Homo sapiens: one gene and its partners. Changing the gene in region 4 together with the main gene of any one other region gives a genetic interaction. Each region holds a gene or a part of one and is shown on either strand. Other genes may lie near its edges. The genes, in order: TMED10, EIPR1, SEC23IP and RAB1A.

Region 1 (7,841 bases), on a different chromosome or scaffold from region 4:
TGGCATTTGGGTTTAGGACCCTTGTGGTTCCATTAAGCTGGTTAGTAGCAAAAGAACAGAGCAGACACAGGAGAGCAACTGAGTGATAGTAAAGTGCTAGGGTGTGTGCACAAAGTCCTGCTGGTTTTTGTTTTGCTTTGTTTTGTTTTGTTTTGAGACCGAGTCTTGTTCTGTTGCCCAGGCTGGAGTGCAGTGGCACGGTGTCAGCTCACTGCAGCCACTGCCTCCCAGGTTCTAGTGATTCTCCTGCCTCAGCCTCCCGGGTAGCTGGGATTACAGGCACACGCCACCATGCCCAGCTAATTTTTGTATTTTTAGTAGAGACTGGATTTTAGCATGTTGCTGAGGCTGGTCTTGAACTCCTGACCTCAGGTGATCCACCCGCCTCGGCCTCCCAAAGAGTTAGGGTTACAGGCATGACCCACCAAGCCCGGCCTAAAGTCCTGCTGTTGAGGTGCCTTCAGCAGCCCTAAATTCAATGTAATTCCCATAAGGCCATGCTAAACTACAGTTCCTGTTATTTATAGAGTACTTACTAGAAGCAAGGTAACATGCTTGGCATTCTAGAAAAGATGAACCTGAAAATAGTTCCTACCCTGAGGATACTAACAGTCTAGTAAGTAGGTCAAGGCATAAACAAAAACAGTTCAGAAAATAAGTGAGTTCAGGGTACTGTCCAGGGTGGCTCCATGTAGAATGCAAAGTGGGAAGTGACCACACGTATAGCTCAGAAACAGATCATGAAGAGCACAACAAAGCATGTTGAGAAATTTAAACTATCAATAAGCAATAGTGAGCCACTGAAGGGCTTTAAAATATAAGAACAAATCAGACAGCAACACGAGATGAGAGCAAGGTCTCTTTCATTGCTGAAATTCCCTGAGTCCATGAACATCCTCTGAAGAGTTGGAAGCATGATCTCCCACCCCGGAAACACTATATCTAAGCTTCTAAAATCATGCCATCACTATTTTCCTGGGTAGAGAGTTTGATACCCAAACAGAATAATAAAATGATGGGTCACAGATTAATTGCCCTGAAAATAGTTTGTCTCTCCCAAATAAAGTAGAAATAAATTACATGTATTACCACACTACTGGGTTCCACTACTTTAACATAAGTTATGGTCTTATTATATCTGAAACCCTTTTAAAAAGTAAAAACGAGGCCAGGCGCGGTGGCTTACGGCTGTAATCCCAGCACTTTGGGAGGCCGAGGCGGGCAGATCACGAGGTCAAGAGATCAAGACCATCCTGGCCAACATGGTGAACCGTCATCTCTACTAAAATACAAAAATTAGCTGGGTGTGGTGGCTGGCGCCTGTAGTCCTAGCTACTCGGAAGGCTGAGGCAGGAGAATTGCTTGAAACCGGGAGGCAGAGGCTGCAGTGAGCCGAGATCGCGCCACAGCACTCCAGCCTGGACGACAGAGCAAGACTCCGTCTCAAAAAAAAAAAAAAAAAAAAAAAAAGTAAAAATGTTTCTATTTAGTATAACAAAAGCCCCATTGTGTTACAAAGAAAAAAAAAGACACTTTGCTTATTGTGAATGAATAAAATTACCTAAAATGCAACCAAATACTGACAGATATCAAATTATATTAATGTCTCAAAGACCAGGCCAGGCTACTCTTAGCTACAAAACAGAATCAAACTGGTATTATGGCAGTAGTTGTCACCATCCAAGAGCATAGTTGGTATTTACATAAAAGAGCCAAGTCCAGATTCTGGCATACCAAAGAAAAAGGACTAGAGACTGAGACCATTTTGTAACCAATAATCGACTTTAATCAACTACAGAAATTACAAATTTAAAACAAGGAAGGAATAAGGTTGCAGCGCTTTTCCCTCAACATACTTAACTACCAAACTAAGTAAGAATCTATTCCATCGCAAGGACAGAAAACCAAACACCGCATGTTCTCACTCATAGGTGGGAATTGAACAATGAGAACACTTGGACACAGGGTGGGGAACATCACACACCGGGGCCTGTCGTGGGGTGGGGGGAGGTGGGAGGGATAGCATTAGGAGACATACCTAATGTAAATGACGAGTTAATGGGTGCAGCACACCAACACGGCACATGTATACATATGTAACAAACCTGAAAGTTGTGCGCATGTACCCTAGAACTTAAAGTATAATAATAATTTTGAAAAAAAAAAAAGAATCTATTCCATCTGTGACACTTACTAGTTTATCCTACCTCTGAGTCTCAGTTTCCTCATTTGTAAAATGGGGCTAACAGTACCTACCTACTTCATAGGGTAGTGCATGAACCAAATGGTAATATATGCAAAGTAGCACAGTAACTGACACAGCAGATGCTCAATAAATAACATTTTATTAATCACGGTTAGCTCTGTCTCCTTTACTTTCCTGCAGGTATCGCGGTATCTTATGATGCCAATCCGTATAAATATTCAACACCCCAACATTTATTTGGAGAACCAAATTACGGTTCAATGTATCTGAGACCAAAACTGGTATAGGACGTTGACAACCGCCCCAGCTCAGGTGTCACCACATCCGCCAAAGCCTCGCAGCCCTTCTTGGGGTTCCCAGGCGTTGGTGACCCGCCCCGCCCCGCGACAGGCAACCAGCGGGGTGAGGGGGCGGGCTCCACCGCACGTCCTTTGCGCTCCCGGGAGGCCAGAACAACTCCCAGGCCTCCGCCGGCCCGACTCCCCCGAACCCGAGCCTCCCCTCGCCTAAGCCTGCCGTCTTCCCTCCCGGCCCCACGTCGCCCAATGCCGCACCTTGAGGTGGCTGCGCAGGCCGCCAGCGCCCCCAGACTGGTCGGAGATCTCGTACGCGCCAGTCACTAGCAGGTCCTTGTGAATCTCCTCACGGAGGCACTTGCGAGAGTTAATGGGCAGATGGAAGGAGATGGCAAGGACCAATCTGGGGCCGAGCAGGAACAAAAGCAGCAACGCTAACGGAAAAGGGCCGCGCCGGGCTGGTGGGCCAGACAAACCAGACATGGTGCTGGAGACTCGTTCACCACCGAAGGCCTCAACCGCGCCGGAACCGGGGGGACCCACGTGACTCACCTCTGACCTTCTGATGCCGTCCGCGCCATTTTGGAGACTGGCATGTAGAGAAAGACTCTATAGCGAATCTTTTGAAAAGGGAAGAAAGGATAGGTACCATGTCAAAACCGCAAGTTTAAGCAGTTAAAGAAGCTTTAATAGAATACTATTGCAACAGTTTTATTTTTGTTGAAGTTAGTGACTACTGAGTCGGCCATGGCAAGTATGGGCAGCCCTGGAAGTAATTCTCCTTTAATTTCCGAAAGATGTACCCACGAGTTTAAAGGCGAGTGACACCATAGCAACCAAGCCCCAATAGGAAACAGCCACAAGGCCCTTCGCTGGGCCCGCCCACCGGCCGCCTAGGCGCGAGGGCGGGGAATGAGGCTGTGTCTCCGGGGATGGGGCGGTTTGCAGGCACTCCCAAGCGCCTTTGACACCTTGATGACACCTGGGGCACTGAGACACTAGAGAGGAAAATTTCGAGGAAAGATTTCAACTTGGCTATTAGACAGTGTGGACCTTAGAGAAGAAGTTTTAGGGGTCACCTGATGAATGTGTGCCGGGCAGACATCCGGTTCATGTCCCATAGCAGGGTATTTGGGCTGGAGTAATTGTCTGGCTAACTGAATGTACATGGTATTATTATTATTATTATTATTATTATTATTATTATTATTTTAGCAAACATTGAATGTGTTCTAAGCTATATTCAAAATAAATTTGAATTTGGTATTTAAATTGAATAAAACAACATGTTTTGGTCCAGTCTCAGATGAACATAATTAAGGGGTTAGCAGATAAGCGTTGTCAGGGAAAGTGCGTATGTGTGTGTTTTAAGTTCACAAACACTTTAGGGATCAAATTAACTATTAACATTTGCAAATAGACAAGCAAATTGACACGGTAATAATTCATGCATTCATTCAATGGAGTACCTACTGTGTGCCAGACATTATGCTATGCATGTATGTCAACACGTTTATTGATTTAACAAACTATTACTGGGATACTAGCAAATATTCAGAGCTGAAGAATATATTAAAATAAACGGCCAGGCGCGGTGGCTCACACCTGTAATCCCAGCACTTTGGGAGGCTGAGGCGGGTGGATCACGAGGTCAGGAGTTCAAGACCAGCCTGGCCAAGATGGTGAAACCCCGTCTCTACTAAAAATACAAAAAAATTAGCTGGGCTTGGTGGCGGGCGCCTGTAATCCCAGCCACTCAGGAGGCTGAGGCAGAGAATTGCTTGAACCCGGGAGATGGAGGTTGCAGTGAGCTGAGATGGCGCCACTGCACTCCAGCCTGGGCGACGGAGTGAGACTTGTCTCAGAAAAGAAAGAAGGAAAGAAAGAAAATGGAATTGCTCCTTGGCCTTTTGGCTAACATCAAGTGTAGAAAATAAACGTGGAAGACACAATAGCCCATGTTGGGAATCATTACCTACTTTGATTAACGTTTATTGAGCATCTTCAGAAATATCCAGAAGATGGACTGTCTGCCCTTAGTAATGTACATGATTGGTGTTTTTTTTTTTTAAACTTAGTCCATTTAGTTATTTTCCTAGAAATGAAATCCCACAGACAAAACAAGAACAAACAAAGGAGCTGTAAAGCATTTAAAATTTTGACAAATGCCATACAATAATTATTTTATGAGGTGTCCACTTAGGAGCATTTAGTTGGATTGTTGTATCACTGATCTAAGATAAGATTGGTAGTCCACACAGTACATCCTGATAATTTGCATTGGCCTTTTCCCTGCCAATGCAGGGAATCAGTATAAGCAGTTATCTAATTCATTGTCTACTTGCATTCCTGAGGCTCTGCTGACCAATAGCAAGAGATCTCAACCCATGAAAAAACTGTGTATGTGTTTCCTTTAAATTTCCATCTTACATTTACATAATAGATAATGCAATTTAAAATATTTTCACATATCATAATGATCTCCTCTGACATTTTCAAAAACCCTGTGAAATAGTCTGGACAATCTGTTCATTTTACAGATGAGGAAACCGAGGTTCTGAGAGGCCAAATAATTATACTGTTAAAGAAAAAATACTTCATGACATTTGTTAAAGAACTGTAAAGCAGGCCAGAGGCGGTGGCTCACACCTGTACTCCTAGCACTTTGGGAGGCCAAGGCGGGCGGATAACTTGAGGTCAGGGGTTCGAAACCAGCCTGGCCAACATAATGAAATCTTATCTCTACTAAAAATACAAAAAATTAGCCGGGCATGGTGGTGGATACCTGTAATCCCAGCTACTTGGGAGGCTGAGACAGGAGAATTGCTTGAACCCAGGAGGTGGAGGTTGCAGTGAGCCAAGATCACACCATTGCCCTCCAGCCTGGACGACAGAGCGAGACTCCTTCTCAAAAAAAAAAAAAAAATTGTAAAGCAAATCTTTATTCAAGGGGGACTGCCAAGATAGGTAATACAAGGGCCTATGACAATGGGGTTTTGTAGTAGGAAGGAGAGATCGGGCTCAATTCCAAATACAAGGAAAAGTAGGGATTTACAGCCAAAAATCAGGGTCAGTGGATGGAAAATTACTAAAAGGAAATATTGGGAGTAAGGGGAGATTCTGGCTAAACTAACTTAGCAGGATTCTTCCTAAAATTGGACAATGCAGAGTCATGGAAGTCCAAAAGTCAGAGCCTATTGAGAAGACAGATCAGAACAGCGTGGGTAAAGTTTGGTCAAGGAGAGAATCTTTGTCAGTACCCCAAACCTCATAAGCTTAAAAGTGACAAAAGCAGTCTAGGGGCCTGAGCTATCCTCAGGAAGATGCTATTATTTCTTATTTTAAAGATGAAGAAACTCAGATGCACAGCAGTTACTTTTCTGTGTCACAGCTCTCAAGTCCTTTCTTTTCTTTTTTGAGATGGAGTCTGGCTCTGTTGCCCAGGCTAGAGCGCAGTGGTGCGATCTCAGCTCACCACAACCTGCCCCTCCTGGGTTCAAGTGATTCTCCTGCCTCAGCCTCCTGAGTAGCTGGGATTATAGGCGCGCACCACCATGCCCGGCTAATTTTTGTATTTTTAGAAGAGACAGGGTTTCACCATGTTGGTCAGGCTGGTCTTGAACATCCTGACCTTGCGATCTGCCCACCTCAGCCCCCAAAGTGCTGGGATTACAGGTGTGAGCCACTGCGCCCGGCTTCCAGTCCTTTCTTGTCCTGTAGTCTTACTTATCCCCATCCTCCAACACCTCCTGTCTTTCTTCCCTCCTTTATAATTTTCCCCTTAGCACTCATTACTATCAAATAAAGCATACATTTTACTTACTTATTGTGTTTATTAGTCTGTCTCCCTAACTAGAATGTCTGTTTTGTGAGGGCAGGGATTTTTATCTATTTTTTCACTGTTTTATCTTCTGAACCTAAAACAGTGCCTAGCACTTAGGTACAATAAATAATGGTACAATGAATTTAAGACTGGTACCTTAGAAAGCGCAACCACAAATTTCTCCCATTATTCTTTAGCTGTTTTCACATAAATTTGTTTAATCCATAATGTATCTAAAGCATAGGTACAGTTTCAGTGTCACCAACATGTCTATCTTTTCTTAAAAAAAATGGAAAATACACTCTTGTTTCTATATAAGGACACAGAAAAACAAACAAACAAAAACAATTCTCCTCTGTATGCTGTGGAATGGAACCAAGACTTTTAAGCCTGCACCTGTGTTAAAGAAGTTACCGGCCGGGCATCGTGGCTCAAGCCTATAATCCCAGCACTTTGGGAGGCTGAGGCAGGCGGATCATGAGGTCAGGAGGAGATGGAGACCATCCTGGCCAACATGGTGAAACCCCGTCTCTACTAAAATACAAAAAATTAGCCCAGCGTGGTGACACGTGCCTGTAGTCCTAGCTACTTGGGAGGCTGAGGCAGGGGAATTGCTTGAACCTGGGAGGTGGAGGTTGCAGTGAGCTGAGATTGCGCCATGGCACTCCAGCCTGGCGAAAGAGCGAGACTCATCTCAAGAAAAAAAAAAAAAAGAAGTTACCATTGGGCCAGACGCGGTGGCTCACGCCTATAATCCCAACATTTTGGGTGGCTGAGGCAGGCAGATCACTTGAGGTCAGGAGTTCGAGACCAGCCTGGCCAACATGGTGAAATCCCATCTCAGCTAGAAATACAAAAATTGGCTGGGTGTGGTGGCTCACGCCTGCATCCCAGCCACTTGGGAGGCTGTGGCACGAGATTCGCTTGAACGCAGGAGGCAGAGGTTACAGTGAGCTGAGATTGCGCCACTGCACTCCAGCCTGGGCGACAGAGCGAGACTCCAACTCAAAAAAAAAAAAAAAAAAGATACCGTTTTACATCTGCATGGTAGAAAGGCCTCATTTGACTTGGAGAGCAAATGGAAAGTGTCCCATAACTACAGTAAATGCTTCTCTCTGGCCAGCAGTCTTCTGCCGTCCTGTCATCCTGAAACTTCCCCAGCCAAATCCACCTAAGATTCCTGAGCCACTGGAGCCTCTGGAGGTGAAGAAATATCATGAAGACACCCTCTGCCAATCTATCCCTAAGCCATAGGTTTCTCAAATTTTCCTTTGTGTAAGAGGGGGCATGTTTAAAATACACCTCACCCCAGATGGTGAATCAGAAGCTCTTACTAAAAATTTGCATTCGGGCTGGGCACAGTGGCTCACGCTTATAATCCCAGCACTTTGGGAGGCTGAGGCAGGCAGATTGCTTGAGTCCAGGAGTTCCAGACCAGCCTGGGTGACATGGCAAAACCCCATCTCTACAAAAGATACCAATAATTAGCTGGACATAGTGGTGTATGCCTGTAGTC
Region 2 (7,023 bases), about 62 Mb from region 4:
CCCAGCACTTTGGGAGGCCAAGGCAGACGGATCACAAGGTCAGGAGATCGAGACCATCCTGGCTAACACCCTGAAACCCCCTCTCTAAAAATACAAAAAATTAGCCAGGCGCGGTGGCAGGCGCCTGTAGACCCAGCTACTCAGGAGGCTGAGGCAGGAGAATGGCGTGAACCCGGGAGGCGGAGCTTGCAGTGAGTTGAGATCGCGCCACTGCACTCCAGCCCGGGTGACAGAGCGACTCTGTCTCAAAAAAAGAAAAAAGAAAAGAAAATTTAATCTCCATCTTCCATTTCAAAAGTCTTTCCTCACTTGGCAACAGGCAGACCCTGAAGCGCTGGCCTGGTCCATCTGTCCCTCAGACTGATGGCACAAAAAGCCAAAAGCCCACAGTCTCTTTGCCCCTCTGACCTGACTGCACTGATCTCAGGACTCCAGGAGAACCTCCCAGAACAGAAAGGAGGCACGCATATCCTTGTGTGGCTTACAACCTGCCCTGCTTGCTTCCTGGTTTTGGTGGTAAACCGAAGGGAAAGCAACTTGAAACAAGCCCAAGTCATCATTGTCACCCACCTTCCCACCCCGACCGTCCTTTCTGGTCTGGCCCAGCTCACTTGGCAGCAGTGGGCTCAAATAGGAGTTGGCAGATGTAGCCCTCACTCTGCCCACACCTGCAGGCCCTGCTTGCCGCTGGTCCATCTTAGTCACATGCCTGCCCCCAGACCTACACATGGGCAGAGCCACCACTGCCTAGAGGTTCACTGTTCCCATCACAAGGCAAGTTTGCCACATGGAGATTTGACCCACACAACAAAGAAGATCTATTAATGTCAAAAGTTCAAAGAAACATGATTGCAGGAGAGAAGTCATACTGTTTGTATGCACTTTGAGATAGTCACAAAGAACTACTGTTGTGTTAACTGACAAGTATTCATTAAACTCATATTGAGAAAATGGATTTCTACTGAGCAGTAAACTAAAAGTGTGCAAAAGCATTTCAAATATCATTTGAAATTTCATGCATTTCAAATATAATTATAAAAAAATCCAGAATCATTACCATGAATTTGCTCAGCATTTTGCGATCTTAACGACCCTCCGTGTTGGTCTTTTATTTGCAGTTGCAGTACTGCCCTTTATCTTTCAAGTGTCATTACCTTCACTCAGCGGTCAACGATCAGATCTCTATCCTTTCATGTAAAGTGTTCTCCATGGGATTTGAATGTCACTGACAAACAAACAAAAAAAAACACTATCCTTTTCAGTTTTCTTGTTTACTGCAATGATGGTTCTTCAAACTTAAGAAAGTCTTGGTCCATGATACTATCCGATAAAATCCAAGTAGCAAAAGTCAGCTACTTCTTTTAAGATAAAGAAGAAAATCCAATAATATATTTGACTACCTTAGAGAATCAATTTCATTCATTTTTCAAACCTCAGAAAATAATATTTCAGGGAGGAGCCAAGATGGCCGACTAGGAACAGCTCCGGTCTAGAGCTCCCAGCGTGAGCAACGCAGAAGACGGGTGATTTCTGCATTTCCATATGAGGTACCGGGTTCATCTCACTAGGGAGTGCCAGACAGTGGGCGCAGGTCAGTGGGTGCAGCGAACCGTGCGCAAGCCGAAGCAGGGCGAGGCATTGCCTCACTCGGGAAGTGCAAGGGGTCAGGGAGTTCCCTTTCCTGGTCAAGGAAAGGGGTGACAGACAACACCTGGAAAATTGAGCCACTCCCACCCAAATACTGCGCTTTTCCGACGGGCTTAGGAAACAGCGCACCAGGAGATTATATCCCACACCTGGCTCGGAGGGTCCTATGCCCACGGAGTCTCGCTGATTGCTAGCACAGCAGTCTGAGATCAAACTGCAAGGTGGCAGCGAGGCTGGGGGAGGGGCGCCCGCCATTGCCCAGGATTGCTTAGGTAAACAAAGCAGCCGGGAAGCTCGAACTGGGTGGAGCGCACCACAGCTCAAGGAGGCCTGCCTGCCTCTGTAGGCTCCACCTCTGGGGGCAGGGCACAGACAAACAAAAAGACAGCAGTAACCTCTGCAGACTTAAATGTCCCTGTCTGACAGCTTTGAAGAGAGCAGTGGTTCTCCCAGCACGCAGCTGGAGATCTGAGAACGGGCAGACTGCCTCCTCAAGTGGGTCCTTGACCCCTGACCCCCGAGCAGCCTAACTGGGAGGCACCCCCCCCGTAGGGGCAGACTGACACCTCACACGGCCGGGTACTCCTCTGAGACAAAACTTCCAGAGGAACGATCATACAGCAACATTCGCGGATCACGAAAATCCGCGGTTCTGCAGACACCGCTGCTGATACCCAGGCAAACAGGGTCTGGAGTGGACCTCTAGCAAACTCCAACAGACCTGCAGCTGAGGGTCCTGTCTGTTAGAAGGAAAACTAACAAACAGAAAGGACATCCAACCAAAAACCCATCTGTACATCATCATCATCAAAGACCAAAAGTAGATAAAACCACAAAGATGGGGAAAAAACAGAGCAGAAAAACTGGAAACTCTAAAAAGCAGAGCGCTTCTCCTCCTCCAAAGGAACGCAGTCCCTCACCAGCAACGGAACAAAGCTGGACGGAGAATGACTTTGACGAGTTGAGAGAAGAAGGCTTCAGACGATCAAACTACTCCGAGCTACAGGAGGAAATTCAAACCAAAGGCAAAGAAGTTGAAAACTTTGAAAAAAATTTAGACGAATGTATAACTAGAATAACCAATACAGAGAAGTGCTTAAAGGAGCTGATGGAGCTGAAAGCCAAGGCTCGAGAACTATGTGAAGAATGCAGAAGCCTCAGGAGCCGATGCGATCAACTGGAAGAAAGGGTATCAGTGATGGAAGATGAAATGAATGAAATGAAGCGAGAAGGGAAGTTTAGAGAAAAAAGAATAAAAAGAAATGAACAAAGCCTCCAAGAAATATGGGACTATGTGAAAAGACCAAATCTGCACCTGATTGGTGTACCTGAAAGTGATGGGGAGAATGGAACCAAGTTGGAAAACACTCTGCAGGATATTATCCAGGAGAACTTCCCCAATCTAGCAAGGCAAGCCAACATTCAGATTCAGGAAATACAGAGAATGCCACAAAGATACTCCTCGAGAAGAGCAACTCCAAGACACATAATTGTCAGATTCACCAAAGTTGAAATGAAGGAAAAAATGTTAAGCGCAGCCAGAGAGAAAGGTCGGGTTACCCACAAAGGGAAGCCCATCAGACTAACAGCGGATCTCTCGGCAGAAACTCTACAAGCCAGGAGAGAGTAGGGGCCAATATTCAACATTCTTAAAGAAAATAATTTTCAACCCAGAATTTCATATCCAGCCAAATTAAGCTTCATAAGTGAAGGAGAAATAAAATACTTTACAGACAAGCAAATGCTGAGAGGTTTTGCCACCACCAGGCCTGCCCTAAAAGAGCTCCTGAAGGAAGCACTAAACATGGAAAGGCATAACCGTACCAGCCGCTGCAAACTCATGCCAAAATGTAAAGACCATCGACATTAGGAAGAAACTGCATCAACTAACAAGCAAAATAACCAGCTAACAGCATGACAGGATCAAATTCACACATAATATTAACCTTAAATGTAAATGCACTAAATGCTCCAATTAAAAGACACAGACTGGCAAATTGGATAAAGAGTCAAGACCCATCAGTGTGCTGTATTCAGGAAGCCCATCTCACGTGCAGAGACACACATAGGCTCAAAATAAAAGGATGGAGGAAGATCTACCAAGCAAATGGAAAACAAAAAAAGGCAGGGGTTGCAATCCTAGTCTCTGATAAAACACACTTTAAACCAACAAAGATCAAAAGAGACAAAGAAGCCCATTACTTAAGGGTAAAGGGATCAATTCAACAACAAGAGCTAACTATCCTAAATATATATGCACCCAATACAGGAGCACCCAGATTCATAAAGTAAGTCCTGAGTGACCTACAAAGAGACTTAGACTCCCACACAATAATAATGGGAGACTTTAACACCCCACTGTCAACATTAGACAGATCAACGACACAGAAAGTTAAAAAGGATACCCAGGAATTGAACTCAGCTCTGCACCAAGCGGACCTAATAGATATCTACAGAACTCCCCACCCCAAATCAACAGAATATACATTTTTTTCAGCACCACGCCACACCTATTCCAAAATTGACCACATAGTTGGAAGTAAAGCTCTCCTCAGCAAATGTAAAAGAACAGAAATTATAACAAACTATCTCTCAGACAACAGTGCAATCAAACTAGAACTCAGGATTAAGAAACTCATTCAAAACCGCTCAACTACATGGAAACTGAACAACCTGCTCCTGAATGACTACTGGGTACATAATGAAATGAAGGCAGAAATAAAGATGTTCTTTGAAACCAATGAGAACAAAGACACAACATACCAGAATCTCTGGGACACATTCAAAGCAGTGTGTAGAGGGAAATTTATAGCACTAAATGCCCACAAGAGAAAGCAGGAAAGATCCAAAATTGACACCTAACATCACAATTAAAAGAACTAGAAAAGCAAGAGCAAACACATTCAAAAGCTAGCAGAAGGCAAGAAATAACTAAAATCAGAGCAGAACTGAAGGAAATAGAGACACAAAAAACCCTTCAAAAAATTAATGAATCCAGGAGCTGGTTTTTTGAAAGGATCAACAAAATTGATAGACCGCTAGCAAGACTAATAAAGAAAAAAAGAGAAGAATCAAATAGACGCAATAAAAAATGACGAAGGGGATATCACCACCAATCCCACAGAAATACAAACTACCATCAGAGAATACTACCAACACCTCTACGCAAATAAACTAGAAAATCTAGAAGAAATGGATAAATTCCTCAACACATACACTCTCCCAAGACTAAACCAGGAAGAAGTTGAATCTCTGAATAGACCAATAATAGGATCTGAAATTGTGGCAATAATCAATAGCTTACCAACCAAAAAGAGTCCAGGACCAGATGGATTCACAGCCGAATTCTACCAGAGGTATAAGGAGGAACTGGTACCATTCCTTCTGAAACTATTCCAATCAATAGAAAAAGAGGGAATCCTCCCTAACTCATTTTATTAGGCCAGCATCATCCTGATACCAAAGCCGGGCAGAGACACAACCAAAAAAGAGAATTTTAGACCAATATCCTTGATGAACATTGATGCAAAAATCCTCAATAAAATACTGGCAAACTGAATCCAGCAGCACATCAAAAAGCTTATCCACCATGATCAAGCGGGCTTCATCCCTGGGATACAAGGCTGGTTCAATCTACGCAAATCAATAAATGTAATCCAGCATATAAACAGAACCAAAGACAAAAACCATATGATTATCTCAATAGATGCAGAAAAGGCCTTTGACAAAATTCAACAACGCTTCATGCTAAAAACTCTCAATAAATTAGGTATTGATGGGAAGTATCTCAAAATAATAAGAGCTATCTATGACAAACCCACAGCCAATATCATACTGAATGGGCAAAAACTGGAAGCATTCCCTTTGAAAACTGGCACAAGACAGGGATGCCCTCTCTCACCACTCCTATTCAACATAGTGTTGGAAGTTCTGGCCAGGGCAATTAGGCAGAAGGAAATAAAGGCTATTCGATTAGGAAAAGAGGAAGTCAAATTGTCCCTGTTTGCAGACGACATGATTGTATATCTAGAAAACCCCATTGTCTCAGCCCAAAATCTCCTTAAGCTGATAAGCAACTTCAGCAAAGTCTCAGGATACAAAATCAATGTACAAAAATCACAAGCATTCTTATACACCAATAACAGACAAACAGAGAGCCAAATCATAAGTGAACTCCCATTCACAATTGCTTCAAAGAGAATAAAATACCTAGGAATCCAACTTGCAAGGCACATGAAGGACCTCTTCAAGGAGAACTACAAACCACTGCTCAATGAAATAGAAGAGAATACAAACAAATGGAAGAACATTCCATGCTCATGGGTAGGAAGAATCAATATCGTGAAAATGGCCATACTGCCCAAGGTAATTTATAGATTCAATGCCATCCCCATCAAGCTACCAATGACTTTCTTCACAGAATTAGAAAAAACTACTTTAAAGTTCATATGGAACCAAAAAAGAGCCCTCATCGCCAAGTCAATCCTAAGCCAAAAGAACAAAGCTGGAGGCATCACGCTACCTGACTTCAAACTATACTACAAGGCTACAGTAACCAAAACAGCATGTTACTGGTACCAAAACAGAGATACAGATCAATGGAACAGAACAGAGCCCTCAGAAATAATGCCGCATATCTACAACTATCTGATCTTTGACAAACCTGACAAAAACAAGCAATGGGGAAAGGATTCCCTATTTAATAAATGGTGCTGGGAAAACTGGCTAGCCATATGTAGAAAGCTGAAACTGGATCCCTTCCTTACACCTTATACAAAAATTAATTCAAGATGGAATAAAGACTTAAACGTTAGACCTAAAACCATAAGAACCCTAGAAGAAAACCTAGGCATTACCATTCAGGACATAGGCATGGGCAAGGACTTCATGTCTAAAACACCAAAAGCAATGCCAACAAAAGCCAAAATTGACAAATGGGATCTCATTAAACTAAAGAGCTTCTGTACAGCAAAAGAAACTACCAACAGAGTGAACAGGCAACCTACAAAATGGGAGAAAATTTTCACAACCTGCTCATCTGACAAAGGGCTAATATCCAGAATCTACAATGAACTCAAACAAATTTACAAGAAAAAAACAAAAAACCCCATCAAAAAGTGGGCAAAGGATATGAGCAGACACTTCTCAAAAGAAGACATTTATGCAGCCAAAAGACACATGAAAAAATGCTCATCATCACTGGCCATCAGAGAAATGCAAATCAAAACCACAATGAGATACCATCTCACACCAGTTAGAATGGCAATCATTAAAAAGTCAGGAAACAACAGGTGCTGGAGAGGATGTGGAGAAATAGGAACACTTTTACACTGTTGGTGGGACTGTAAACTAGTTCAACCATTGTGGAAGTCAGTG
Region 3 (7,023 bases), on a different chromosome or scaffold from region 4:
CATGGTGAAACCCCATCTCTACTAAAAATACAAAAATTAGCTGGGTGTGGTGGCAGACGCCTATAATCCCAGCTAGTTGGGAGGCTGAAGCAGGAGAATGGCTTGAACCTGGGAGGCAGAGGTTGCAGTGAGCCGAGATCGTGCCACTGCACTCCAGCCTGGGAGACAAAGCAAGACTCCCTTTCAAAAAAAAAAAAACGGAACCAACATATACATACTTGACTATCAATATCCCCAACACTAGAAACAATTCCTTTTCAAATGAAAATTACTAAGATGCTTTAAAAAGAAAAAAAAAGCACACAGTCACAAATATCACAAATATTTGATCTCCTTGTTATAAAATAATCGCTAATTTTGGTCCCATTATTTCAGTTACAGTAAATCAACAGGACACACCATATTACTTTTGTATTGATCTAGTAGCACCTTGTTATCTGTAAGAAGTGTAAAGCAATCAATGGCAACTCAGCTGAGAAAGTTTCATGGTTCATCCAAAGGCAATTACCTTTTAATTTAAAAAATAAGATCACTCTATAGATTTTTGCTCATTTCAAAACATTCTTATAATGCCATAATTTATATATCTAAGCAACTGCAGTCCATAAACCAGTCTCCTTCTAGAAATTCTTCAAGAACTATAGAATCCTTTTCTACTTTTTTCCCTTTCATTACAGAATAAATTAAGAACATGGTGTAGGGCCTGAACACAAAGCTTCTCATTTCTTGTTTTTTTTGTTTTTTTTTTTATAGGCTTTTGCTTCACTGATGTATACACGGAGACAAGCATTTTTCTGTATGGAGCACGCAGCCTGTATACAGAAACAACACTGACATGCTTGTGTCCTAGTCTCAGTTTGACTATTGTGCTCATCAGAGACAAAAGCCTGGGGATCTACTCACAGGGTTGTTGTGAGGCTCAGGTGAGATGAAAAGCTCTTTGTAAATTGGAATTACAGAACGATTCAACACACAAGAAAAATGACATGAAAGATACCTCTTAACTGCCAAAACTAATAACCTTTCTCAGCACTTAATCAAATACTGCTTGTCTATGTCTAAAATGTCTTTTGAGTTGCTCCCTTCCTCTCCACCTCCTACCTTATACCCCTATCATCTCTCTTTCAGTCACTGTACAATTACAATTACTACTATGTAAGATTGCAGCCGCCTCCACTTCACGCCTTTCCAACTTCATCTGTGCACTGTGACCAAGCAAACTCTCCACAGTCCAAAAGTTAAAATTAAAATTTAGACTACACAGATGATTTGGTGCTAAATCATAACTTGTGATAGAATAAGCAGGTCAGCATTTTGTAATGTTTAAAAACACCATGACTTTCATGGCCATAAGAACATGTTTGAAAACCACTCCCTTACAAGAGAAAATCCAAGCCTCCACACCTGCCACCTGGGCCTTTGGAACCCTCTGCCCTTCCCAGTTTCCAGCTTCCCTGATGCTACAGGAAAACACATGCCAGATTCCAGAAGGCCATCTCCCCTGACCTTACCCCTCCTTCAAGCTCAAGCACCATCACCTTGGAGAAGTCTTCTCTCACCAACCCCATGCTTGTCTCAACAAGCCAGAACTGCCACCTCTCATCTGCCTCAGGACAGCACACACAGCACGCTATTATGGGGCTGGTATGTTGTCATTTGAGCTCAACGTGCTCCCCGCAACTAGACAGCACACTCTTGGTTAATCTCCGGCTCCCAAGAATTGAACACAGTGCCTGACTCAAAAGAGGTAGCTGCTATTCAATAAAATGCTGAGAAGACTCAATTCCTTAAGCTAACCATTAAAAAAAAAATCAGTCCTATGACTTTATAGTCATTTCCCATATAAAGAAATGATGTAGGTTAAGTTCCAAACAGGTAGTAAAATAATAGAACCATAGAAATTCAAAAGATGGAAGGATCATCAAAGAGCATGTTAATAACAATACAAATAAGACGGCCACCCTAAGAGTCATCTAATTTTTCTAATTAGAAAACCTCTGTAAAATTAATTTGATCAATAAATTAAAATTAATAAAACAAGTATATTTTCCAGTTGTTCTAGTTTTAAATGCTTTTTAGCTGTTGCCTTGTTTTGTATTGTTAACAATTTTTGCTGTTTAGTGTTTAAGACTTCAGTGTGTATGTTTTTCCTCATCTCTTTAGATGGTAAGGACTGGGAAGAAAGTGAGCTATTACTTGGTGCTAAGCTTTGCATGCATTATTTCATGCTTACTCCAATCCTGTAAGGAAGGTATTATTCCATTTTAGAAATGAAGAAAACAAAGGATCAGAAAAATTAAGAAAATCACTCATGATCAGAAGGCTGAGGCGGGAGGATAGCTTGAGCCCAGGAGTTTGAGACCAGCAGTGGGAAACACAGCAAGATCCCATCTCAAAATAAACAAATGAATAAAACCAAATACAAATTGCTCATTAATACGCAGTTAATGAGCAGTTGAGCTGAGAATTTATTTGTCAGAACTTAACCACTGTTTGCACCAGGAAAACCTTAAATATCCATTTTAAAACTGAAAGCCCTTCATCCTAGGAACTTAGTCCCAGGAAAACCAGGATGGTCACTTAGCCTAATGTGGACTTAAGCCCAACTCTGACTCCTAAGTCTGGGTTTCCATCAGCTCCATTACTGTGCCCTAGGTAGGGAGCAAACTAGCTTACCTAACCATAGTAGTATTAAAATTTTCTATAATATAAACGAGCTGGTCACACCATGAGTTTTAGTTTTTCTTGAGTCAGAGGTGAACTTTACCAGTTTGGCTGCTTTATGTTCTACAAAGTTAGCTATCTTCTTTCTGGGTCCAAGGGGTATCCCCATTTCCTTCAGGTCATCAACTGTACACATAAGCTTTAAAAGGAAACAGACAAGCACATTAATCAATCTAGTGATAGAAGAACTGAAATGAGAATATGAAAATTATAAAGAAACCACATCATCTAAAGCAATCTAAGAGCCACTCAACTTTTTACAAGTTAGTTATTTTGTATTTAAATCATGCATCAGTTTAGGCTATAAAATCTTAGGCTTCCACACCTAAATCATTCTATTAATTAACAGAAAATACACATATGGTATACAAAATTCCAAAGCTATAGTCAAGCATACGATGAAATATCTTCCTCCCACTGCTGTCCCAAACATAGAATTCTCCTCTCAGCGCAACTGTGGAAACTTGCTCTCTTTGAAGCGATGTCTTATGTATGCATAGCACTTACATGTTTTTCTCTGTGTGTGTGCTCTACTATGCACACAGTAATGAACTCTGCTCTCTTCATGTAAATGTACCTTAGAGACGGGTATCTCTGACACTGCATCATTCATTCAACAGCTGTAGGGTACTCCGTTATGCGGATGCACCATAAATGATTTCACTAGCACCCTACTCCTCAACACCAATGGTGTCTCTAATGTTTTGTTACCTTGCAAACACTGCTGTGAGTATCCTTGTAGATAATTCTTGTTTGAATATTTCTCTATAGGAAATATTCCTGGCAATGAAACTGATGAAGCAAAGGGTAATTTTTATATTCTTAAAGATATTGCCAAACTGCCTTCCAAAGAGTTTGTAATATTTTACAGTCTGACCAACAATATATAACAATGCCTAGTTCCCTTCACCCTGGCCACATAGCATATTTTCAAACTTCCTATTTTTTCAAACTGGTAAGTTAAAAAAAATCCCATTGTACTTTCAATTTCCATTTCTCTTATGAGTTTTCATATGCGAAGACACCATTTGTTATTTCCTTTTCTGTAAATCATGTTTATATTCTTTGCCTATTTACATATCACACTGATGTGATGGTCTTTCTGTAACTGATTTGTAGAAGCTTTGAAAATCAATGAAGTAAGCCCTCTGTCTATAATGTGTGTTGCAAATGTATCACTGGCCTTTAGATGTTGTTTATGGTGTCTACTGTTATACAATTTTTTTCTTTGATGGCTTCTGGATTTTGCATCATACTCAGAAAAGCCTTTCAGATTATAAAAAAATATTCTTCTGTGTTTTTCAATTTTTTAAAACATTTCAGTCTTTGTCTACTCTGGAGTGTATTTTGATACGAAAATGTTTATTCTTAATTTTCAATCTACACAAGAAAAACAATTTCAAACAAAATGAAGCAAACTATGATCAGTACCAGGGACTCCATATCAATCTTTTCCTTTTCAAAAGTGCTAAAATATTCAGAGAGGCTAAGTGCTTCCAGAGTTTCTTGCAAAGTTAGGACTTCTTTATTTTCAACAACAAGGTCATACGACTCATCCAAAGTCAGCTTTGGCTCTTCAGGCATCTTTAAAAAAAAAAGTATGAAAAACATTACAAGCTCAGAAAAACTCCCATATAATGACTGCTGATCTACGAAAACTCTCAAACAATTTTGCTTTACACAGAAATCATAATTTTAGGCACAGTACTTTGCCATTCAAAGTTTGAATATTCTGGCCAGGCCCAGTGGCTCACGCCTGTAATCCCAGCACTTTGGGAGGCTGAGGCAGGTGCATCACCTGAGGTCAGGAGTTGAAGACCAGCCTGGCCAACATGATGAAACCCTGTCTCTACTAAAAACACAAAAATTAGCTCAGCTTGGTGGCAGGCGCCTGTAATCCCAACTACTCGGGAGGCTGAGGCAGGAGAATCGCTTGAAACCGAAAGGCGGAGGTTGCAGTGAGCCGAGATCACACCATTGCACTCTAACCTGGGTGACAAAAGTGAAACTCCGCCTCAAAAAAAAAAAAAAATTGAATATTCTGAAAAGTATATAAATTTAATAAATCACTCAAGTCTCCATTTCCTATAATTTACATTTTTAAAAATCACAAACTTTCACATTTAAATTTATAACCCATAAAGAAGAAGAGTGAGAAACTCAAATAATGAGCTATATGATTCCATTCCATTTCTAAACCTCGGTGTACTTTAATATGTAAAACCAGTTTCAGGGCTGGACACGGAAGCTATTATATTTGGGCCTATAACTGTACTCTGAATTTGGGGATTCTCTGAAGAGTTATTGATGCCAGCACTTTGGGAAGCCAAGGCAGGAGGATCGCTTGAGGCCAGGAGGGAACTCAAGACTAGCCCAAGCAACCAATGAGGCTCAGTTAAAACAAACAAACAAACAAACAAACAAACAAAAGTTTCAAGAAACAGTTCAGACTTTTGAAAATTGTTCAGCTCCATAGACTCTAAATCGAAATGTTAATTGGCCACGTACAGACGTACCTGCTTTTCCTGAAAATGTAGCTGCTTCACAACTCCATTAGCAACAGCAAGAGGTCCAGGGCACTTTGATAAATTCAAATCTTTTTGATTAGACAGGATGTCAAACAATATTAAAGAACCTATGAAAAAGAAACATTTTGCCTTATAATGTAGTAGGTACTTTTATAACACTAATTCTTTTTTCACTGTCTATAGTCAAAAGTCATACAGAAGTTACATGTTATTCAAGACCTGATAATTAATTATTTTATCAAACAGCAGAATAAAGTAAAATACATAGCATTCCCTAGGTAATACTAGAGGTGAATATAGAAAAGGCAGAATCTAAACTCAGAGCATTCATTTCTACCTTTTCTGAAACTTAAAATCTGTAATTCTTAATTTTGCACTAACAATATCACCTACACTGAAAGCAGTTATGACTCAACAAAAATTGTATTTAAAATGTGAATATTTGACAGTTTTACCTAAACTGTGACCAGCAACAGAGACACCTCCTTTGAAGTCTGGGTTCCGACTCATAAAGAGTGCATGCAGATGGTTTATCTCCATTCCTACTTTTTCCACAATTGTCTGACAGTAGGTGGGGCTGTTATAAAATAAAATATCTAGCAAAGTTTCATTGGTAAAGTGACGAAATCGACCAATACTTGGCAAAGTGATTTTCTTAATATTCCTGTTTAAAAAGAAAAATACAGCACATTCAGTCAGCATCTACCTTAAATTTACAGATTTTTTTAAAGTTTAGATTTTTGACTCCTGAAAATACACTAAGAAAACCCCACAGACTATGAGTTGTTTCTGTAGATAGTCATTATAAATAAATCAAGATAGGCCAGATGCGGTGGCTCACACCTGTAATCCCAGCACTTTGGGAGGCTGAAGTGGGTGGATCACTTGAGGTCAGGAGTTCAAGACCAACCAGGCCAACATGGCGAAACCCCGTCTTTACTAAAAATACACAAATTAGCCGAGTGTGGTGGTGTACACCTGTAATCCCAGCTACTCAGGAGGGTGAGGCAGGAGAACTGCTTGAACCTGAAAGGCAGAGGTTGCAGTGAGCTGAGACTGCACCACTGCATTCCAGTCTGGGCGACAGAGCAAGATTCCACCTCAAAAAAAAAAAAAAAAATTTAAATCAAAAGTTAGCCACAAGTCATGGCACACACCTGTACACCCAGCTATTTGGGAGGTTGAGGCATGAGAATCGCTTGAACCCAGGAGGTGGAGGTTGCAGTGAGCCGAGATTGTGCCACCACACTCCAGCCTGGGTGACAGAGCGAGACTCCACATCAAAAAAAAAATTAAAAGTATAAATAAAGGTAAACCAAAAAAATTTGTGCTGCCACATGTGGTGGCTCATGCCTGTGATCCTAGCACTTTGAGAGGCTAGGGCAGGAGGACCGCTTGAGCCCGGGAGATCAAGACCAGCTTGAGCAACACAGTGAGACCCCATCTCTACAGAAAATTTAAAAATTAGCCAGGCATGGCGGCTTGCACCTATAGTCCCAGCTACTTGGGAGACTGAGGTGGGAGGATCACTTGAGCCCAGGAGGCCAAGTCTACAGTGAGCCATGATCATGCCAGCGCACTCCAGAGCCTGGGTGACAGTGAGATGCTGTCTCAAAAACAATTCAGTTTTTTTTTTAAAGTTATTTGTGCCTATAACTATACTATGAATTTTGGGATTCTCTGAAGAGTTAGTTGCTATATAAGTCATATGCAAAGATTTCTATTTTATTTTTAAAGAGGGAAGATTACTCTTCCATTTTTCTTCCAGTTA
Region 4 (7,342 bases):
ATACCCATGTATTTGATCCCAGAAAAAATATAAAAACTGTTTCTGGGTTTGATCCCTTTGAGGTCATTAGTCTTCAAAAGAAAGGATGATTTGACACCGTATTTACTTATTAATTACTGTCCTTGTCATTTATGAGCCATTCCTCCTTCTTCTCCCCCTTGAAAATTCCTAGTCACTCCCTCTGTTCCTCCAAATCTAATTGCTGATAAATCCCTTTCAGGTCTCTCTTCTATAAAGTCTTCCAAAACCCAGATAGCCAACCACAACCCACCATCCCCCTGAAATCTTGTTGCTCTCATCCATGCCACACATCTGGAATTTGCTATATCTACTGGTATTTGACATGTATAAAATCTATTTCTGCCGGGCGCGGTGGCTCACGCCTGTAATCCCAACACTTTGGGAAGCTGAGGCGGGCGGATCACTTCGGGAGTTTGAGACCAGCCTGACCAACATGGAGAAACCCCGTCTCTACCAAAAATACAAAATTAGCCGGGAGTGGTGGCACATGCCTGTAATCCCAACTTCTCGGGAATCTGAGGCAGGAGAATCACTTGAACCCAGGAGGCGGAGGTGGCGGTGAGAGGAGATTTGCGCCATTGCACTCCAGCCTGGGCAACAAGATTGAAACTCCGTCTCAAAACAATAAATAATTTTTTTTTTGAGACGGAGTCTTGCTCTGTCGTCCAGGCTGGAGTGCAGTGGCCAGATCTTGGTTCACTGCAAGCTCCACCTCCCGGGATCACGCCATTCTCCTGCCTCAGCCTCTCGAGTAGCTGGGACTACAGGTGCCCACCACCACGCCCGGCTAATTTTTTTGCATTTTTAGTAGAGACGGGGTTTCACCGTGTTACCGAGGATGGTCTCGATCTCCTGACCTCGGGATCCGCCCGCCTCGGCCTCCCAAAGTGCTGGGATTACTGAGGTGAGCCACCGCGCCTGGCCTATATCTAAACTTCTTAAGCGCAAGGATTATATTCCTAAATCCTGGTACTAATAGAATGCCTTTCATGAAAATGATGCATACCACCTGAAGAATGCTCACACGGTTTTTCAAATTCTTTTATATACATTTGAATTTCACCACTACCCTGACAGGAATAATGACTCCAATTATCCTATTTTACAAAAGGGAAAAAAAATTCAGAGGCTGAGTAACTTGTCAAAGTTCTCAACTAATCTTGAAGATTTATTTACACTAATAAACATATATATAGCAAATTCAGAAAATTTCCTGAACAGTAGAGGTCTATAAACCTCGATAAAGCAGTAAATCCATGTTCTTTATTGTTACCAAGAAAACTACTAAATTAAGAACCTCAAGTTCACCTCCGTTCAACTGTGCAAAACCAACTTTGTCCTTGGAGCCCTTGAAAAAAAATTTTTTTTAAACTGTCAACACAGCAAATGTCACTACAAGAACACTACCCTCAACTTCTAAAACATGAAATTCTAATAAAATACTACGGTTTCTGTTTAGTGCAAAAGATTTCAGCTTCAAGCCACACTATTACAAAACTTGTAAGCATTTTGCAAGAGCCATGTGACACACATATGACAGTCAGCTAAACTGGTGGGTGGACCTTTTAGGGGAAAATGTCTAGCAGTAATTGACCAAACCAGCAAATAAACTCAACTTTTACAACAAATACTGATGTTCCCCCATCCCTCAAAGGCCTTTGACACTGAAAAGGAATACCAATTCGGTCTCTTCCAATTATTCATTACTTTACATGCATGTAAACTGTAGAGGAAATTTTTAAAGGGCCATTGAGGAGAGCCCAACAAACTCTACCCAAGGGAAGTGAACACCAGTTCCCAGGAAAGGTGCCAGGTGTGTCACATCTGCTGTGGTGACTTCTTGAGTAAGCAAGAAAAAGAAATGCATTAACTTTTCATGACACGTCATGGAACCTCATTCCCTATCTGCAAGCATCCAAGCAGGTAATCCAAAACCTACATACAGATCTATCATAGGTCCCGTTCGTTTCTCTTTCAACTTGACAGCAAGCTTCCTTTAATCTGCGAGTATCAAAAAGACATTTCTTGGCTTTAGTTTTTTTTTTTTCCCTTGACCCACAGAAGACAAAATGACTTAGGTGTCCTCTTTAAAAAAAAAAAAAACAAAATTCTCACAAATGCCCAGGTTTTTATAGGAGGGCAATGGACCCGGCGAGCTCTTAAACAACTCCTCCAAGACACAACTCAAAAAGAGAACTAATAAATGTTCAGTTGCTTCTCACCATCTACTCATTCCCCTCAATCCCACGCAGTCCCGAAAAGCATCCATATTACCTGAAACCTGGCGGGGAGGATGGAAGGAGAGAGAGCCAACAAGCTCAGGATTTACAAGTAAAGCTGGTTTCTACCCCGAAGATCCTGACAGCTCCGCAGAGTGCGGGCGCAGGGTCTGACAGTGCCCTCTAGAAGGGCTCTCCCACCCCATCCCCTCCCCTTAGAGACAAGTCCTCCTTCAAAAGTCACTGCCTCCGAGAGAAGATACCCCTTCACACCGCCCCAGGCCCCTCGGCAGGCTTCCTCAGCACCCGCCCCGCAGTCAGGCCCTCTAACCTGACCCGGTCCAGGCCCGGGCGGCTCACCCCTCCGGCCCGACCCCTCCCCCGCGCGGCCGCCCCTCCGCGTCAGACAATGGGGCCCGACTCCCGGCCGCCAGCCTCTCCTGACCCATCACCCTCGCCTCACCCCAGCCGATGCCCCGACTTCTGCCCCAACCCTCCTCGACCCCTTTAAGATCCCCCAAGCTGGCCCACGGACCCAGCCGACCGGTGCTCTCCTGAACTCACTATTCGGGATTCATGCTGGACATGTCACTGCAGCTGCCGCCGCCGCCACCGCCGCCCTTGCTGCCGCAGCCGCCGCCCTGACTCTCCGCGCCACGGGTAATCGAAAGAAAGGAATGAGATAGGCTGTTCCGGGAGAGCAAACGTCTTCCCCTACTCCGTCCCCTAGAACACAATCAGCAGCCGCCGCCACTCAGCTATCGCTTCCACCCAAAATGGCCGCCGGCGAACCAGGAAATAGGGAAGCCTTAGACCGAGGGGCCTTTACACGGCCCAGAGGGCGGCCGCACCGCCTGGCATGCCGGGAAAGGGAGTCGCGAGCGCGGCTACGCGAGCTGAGGACAGACAGTGCGACGCAAGGCCAGGACTCAGCTTCCCGCCAAGCGCCGCGCCTCTGGGGCATGCGTACCTGAAGGGTTGTCGCCCGCCCCATTCCCCACTCCCTCACCTCCCCACCCTCGGCCCCTCCCTGCTCCCCTCCCCTCTGACTCGCTGGCTAGGACTTCGCTCGGACTCCCCCTGGCGGATTGGCTAAGGCCGAGCTGCCCTAGTGATGTCATCAGTGAGACGTGGCAGCCGGGCGAGTCAGCGCCCCACGGGGGAGGGGGCGGAGAGGGGCGGAGGGTGGTGCCGGCGGCCGACGGAGGCTGGGGGTCGGGGGAGGCAAGGGACCGGGGGGAGTGGTCAAACCGGAGGGACTGCCGGGGGTGCGGGGGCGGGGAGGGGGCCGGGGTACGAGCGTGTCGGCTCCTGCCTCCGTTGCGGCTGTTGCTGACCTGACCAGCTTGAGGCTTGCGCCACCCTGGTGGCGCTGGTTGGGGGCTGGTAGGAGGACGTCCGCTCTAAGAACAGAAGGGAAGTCAAGGGGCTCCCTGGACGGCACGGAGCGGTTCTTCTCGTCACTCACCCATCCCCACCTGGGTTCGGTCATCGTCCATTGTTGGCCCCGCGCACTACCATTTTCTTCTTAGATTTCTTCCCATTCTTACTGTGCCCCGCTCTTAACTCGTCAGCCTGGCTATTGCAGTAGTCTCCAAATGGACTCTACCTCTCTCTCTCCTCTCCGCCCCAGCCCATTTGCACACACAGTCGGATGTATCTTTCTGAGACAGCACCTGCATCGTGACCCCACAACCTTCAATGGCTCCACATCCCATGGATGGGAGGGACACAGCCCAGAGCCAGCCTAAAATCCAATTCCTACCTTCGTCCCGGCCTTCAGGTTGAATTGTAATGTATTATCTTTTAGTTGCTACTAACCCTGAGCCATTCTGCAAGACTGGAAAATAATAAGCAATAAAAATAGGCAATTCATCACTATATAGTGCCTACAATTTCTGGGAGTAATATTAACTCATTTTTAAAAAACCTATGGCCTTAACAGCTCTCTTTAATCAGCTCAGGAATTTAAATCTCCGCTAAACTTTAACACATTATCTTGAGTTATTTAATTACAAAGGGCATAGTGTAATACATTGTCCAAAGTTTATCTTCCAACTTCTAAGAACTAAGAAAATTGTCTCCTGAGACTTACTGCAGAATCACTTTAAATTCCTACAACGCCAAAATATAGAAAGAAGGCACTTATTTCTACCCATACACTAATTACACCCCTTAGCCCTCAAATTCTGCCATGGGCCTTAGTTGATGAACTTATCAAAAGTTACCCGAGTTTGGTTTCTGAAATGAACATGTTGGTTTCTGAAATGAACACGGTCACCACCCCAGGAATACCCTGAATGGTTCAGTAATAGGCACCAAAAAGTGTTCGTTACCCTGGACTCTAAAGCCCATTAAAAAAAAAAAAAGCTTATTTTGATTTCAAATAAAAACTCAGAAAACTGGCCAGGCTCGGTGGCTCATGCCTGTAATCTCAGGAATTTGAGAGGCCAAAACGGACAGATCACGAGGTCAGGAATTCAAGACCAGCCTGGCCAACATGGTGAAACACTGTCTCTACTAAAAATACAAAAATTAGCCAGGCATGGTGGCGCGTGCCTGTAATCCCAGCTACTCGGGAGGCTGAGGCAGGAAAATTGCTTGAACCCGGGAGGCGGAGGCTACAGTGGGCCGAGAGGCCACTGCACTCCAGCCTGGGCGACAGAGCAAGATTCTGTCTTGAGGGGAGAAAAAAAATCTCAGAAAACTGTGACCTGAGTCACTAGTAAAGGCACACACACACACACACACACACACACACCCCCAAAAAACCCTCAGAAAACTGTCCAGAACTCGTCCTCAGCCAAAAATACAATCTGTCCTCCCCTGGGAAGTATACTCCCAAACTTCCTTTAATTAACTATTTTCTTTCCCAACAAAGAATTACCCCCTGCCAGGCGCAGTGGCTCACGCCTGTAATCCCAACACTTTGGGAGGCCAAGGCGGGCAGATTATGAGGTCAGGAGATCGAGACCATCCTGGCCAACATGGTGAAACCCCGTCTCTGCTAAAAATACAAAAATTAGCTGGGCGTGGTGGCGTGTGGCACGTGAGATTACAGAATCTCAGCTACTCGGGAGGCTGAGGCAGGAGAATGGCTTGAACCAGGGAGTCAGAGGTTGTAGTGAGCCGAGATCGCGCCACTGCACTCCAGCCTGGCAACAGAGCGAGACTCAGTCTCAACAACAACCACCAAAAAAAAAAAAATTACCTCCTAGTAGCTTTTAATCTAAGTGACAGGATAGCTGTAAGCGTTGAATAAACACAATGTAAAGCATATAGTACAATGGCTTTGGGACCCTTGGTAAATGTTAATTACTTTTCTCTGTAGGAGAGCAAAAAAATGACTTCCCTCCACCCTGCTAGGTTCCTTGGCTAGTTTATGAACTAAATTAACCTAAGACAGATTAACAGGAGAAAATCATATTTGATTAAGTACATATGCATGGGAGTTCCTCAAAATAAGAGACTCCAAGAAGGGTCTGATGATTGAAGCATCCTGAGCTACAGAAAAGAATACGGCTTGGTGGCCGGGTGCAGTAGCTCACGCCTCTAATCCCAGCACTTTGGGAGGCCAAGGCGGGTGGATCACGAGGTCAGGACATCAAGATCATCCTGGCTAACACGGTGAAACCCAGTCTCTACTAAAAATGCAAAAACAAAATTACCTGGGCGTGGTGGCGGCTGCCTGTAGTCCCAGCTACTCGGGAGGCTGAGACAGAAGAATGGCGTGAATCCGGGAGGCGGAGCTTGCAGTCAGCTGAGATGGCACCACTGCACTCCAGCCTGGGCTACAGAGCGAGAGTCCATCTCAAAAAAAAAAAAGAATAGGGCTTGGTGCCGGGCGCGGTGGCTTACGGCTTACGGCTGTGATCCCAGCTCTTTGAGAAGCCAAGGTGGGTGGATCACTAGAGGTCAAGAGTTCGAGACCAGCCTGGCCAACCTGGCGAAACCCTGTCTCTACTAAAAACACAAAAAATTGGGCAGGCACAGTGGCTCACGCCTGTAATCCCAGCACTTTGGGAGGCCAAGGCAGGTGGATCATTTGAGGAGTTCAAGACCAGCCTGACCAATATGGTGAAAACCCGTCTCTACTAAAAATACAAAAATCAGCTGGGCATGGTGGCACATACCTGTGATCCCAGCTGCTCGGGAGGCTGAGGCAGGAGAATCGCTTGAACCTGGGAGGCGGAGATTGCAGTGAGCCGAAACTGTGCCACAGCACTCCAGCCTGGGCAACAGAGCGAGACTCAATCTCAAAAAAAAAAAAATTGAAAAAATTAGCCAGGCATGGTGGCGGGTACCTGTAATCCTAGCTACTCAGGTAGCTGAGGCAGGAGAATATCTTCAACCCGGGAGGTAGAGGTTGCAGTAAACTGAGATCACACCACTGTACTCCAGCCTAGGTGACAGAGCAAGACTCCATCTCAAAAAAAAAAACAAAACTGGGGCTTGGGGCCTTCGGAGAGGTAATGATAAGCTACAGGAGGGCAAGAGGGGAAATGCATGGTAAAGAAAGATTGTCCTGCCATGCAGATAAAAAGTCTCTCAGGTAATAAAAGTTATCTTGAGGCAGCCCTCTCTCTGATATAGATACGTTACTAATGTAGATTTCCTTTGTAGACATAAACTTATTTTACAAAAGGACAGCTTTTCAGAGCTACTCCTGTGTCTACAGTTTCTTAGAATAACCAGCTCAAAATATGCCACCAAAGAAGAATATTTTAGGAGAGCATATTCTGGTCCCCCAGAGTGATATTTGAGGTGGTATGTCCTGGTCCCCAACATCTACTTCTCTCAGCTTCTCTGAAAGTCTTAAGTGTACCTGCTGTGTACCAAGGACAGAAAGCCTCATAGCTTAGCTTCCGTGTTGTAGAATATTATGCGAAGAGGTCAGAGGCAGCTTAGCCTGGGAATGGTAGGTGGGTGTTTTCTACCCCCACTGAAATTTATGTGCAATTACATTAAGACTTCCTTTCCAAATTTAAAGTGGCTAAAAATTAAACTTTTTAAAAGTTTTGCTGACTCAAACTTTAATATATATATTTTCGTGTGTGTTTTTTTGTTGTTGTTGTTGTTGTTGTTTTGAGATGGAGTCTCAC

The links.
Region 1: changes in RAB1A (region 4) and TMED10 are lethal when combined (synthetic lethality), as found in Homo sapiens cells (one study listed by BioGRID).
Region 2: changes in RAB1A (region 4) and EIPR1 are lethal when combined (synthetic lethality), as found in Homo sapiens cells (one study listed by BioGRID).
Region 3: changes in RAB1A (region 4) and SEC23IP are lethal when combined (synthetic lethality), as found in Homo sapiens cells (2 studies listed by BioGRID, with this or other methods).

Annotation. Positions count from the first base shown.
Region 1 is NC_000014.9:75,173,595-75,181,435, forward strand, and holds the start of TMED10 (transmembrane emp24 domain-containing protein 10 precursor), read right to left. Parts: upstream 3,019-7,841; 5' UTR 2,986-3,018; coding exon 2,761-2,985; intron 1-2,760. UniProt on the Homo sapiens protein: Cargo receptor involved in protein vesicular trafficking and quality control in the endoplasmic reticulum (ER) and Golgi.
Region 2 is NC_000002.12:3,367,796-3,374,818, forward strand, and holds part of EIPR1 (EARP and GARP complex-interacting protein 1), read right to left. Parts: intron 1-7,023. UniProt on the Homo sapiens protein: Acts as a component of endosomal retrieval machinery that is involved in protein transport from early endosomes to either recycling endosomes or the trans-Golgi network.
Region 3 is NC_000010.11:119,916,729-119,923,751, reverse strand, and holds part of SEC23IP (SEC23-interacting protein), read right to left. Parts: intron 5,917-7,023; coding exon 5,708-5,916; intron 5,360-5,707; coding exon 5,241-5,359; intron 4,309-5,240; coding exon 4,156-4,308; intron 2,864-4,155; coding exon 2,768-2,863; intron 1-2,767. UniProt on the Homo sapiens protein: Plays a role in the organization of endoplasmic reticulum exit sites. Specifically binds to phosphatidylinositol 3-phosphate (PI(3)P), phosphatidylinositol 4-phosphate (PI(4)P) and phosphatidylinositol 5-phosphate (PI(5)P).
Region 4 is NC_000002.12:65,127,089-65,134,430, forward strand, and holds the start of RAB1A (ras-related protein Rab-1A), read right to left. Parts: upstream 3,019-7,342; 5' UTR 2,828-3,018; coding exon 2,805-2,827; intron 1-2,804. UniProt on the Homo sapiens protein: The small GTPases Rab are key regulators of intracellular membrane trafficking, from the formation of transport vesicles to their fusion with membranes.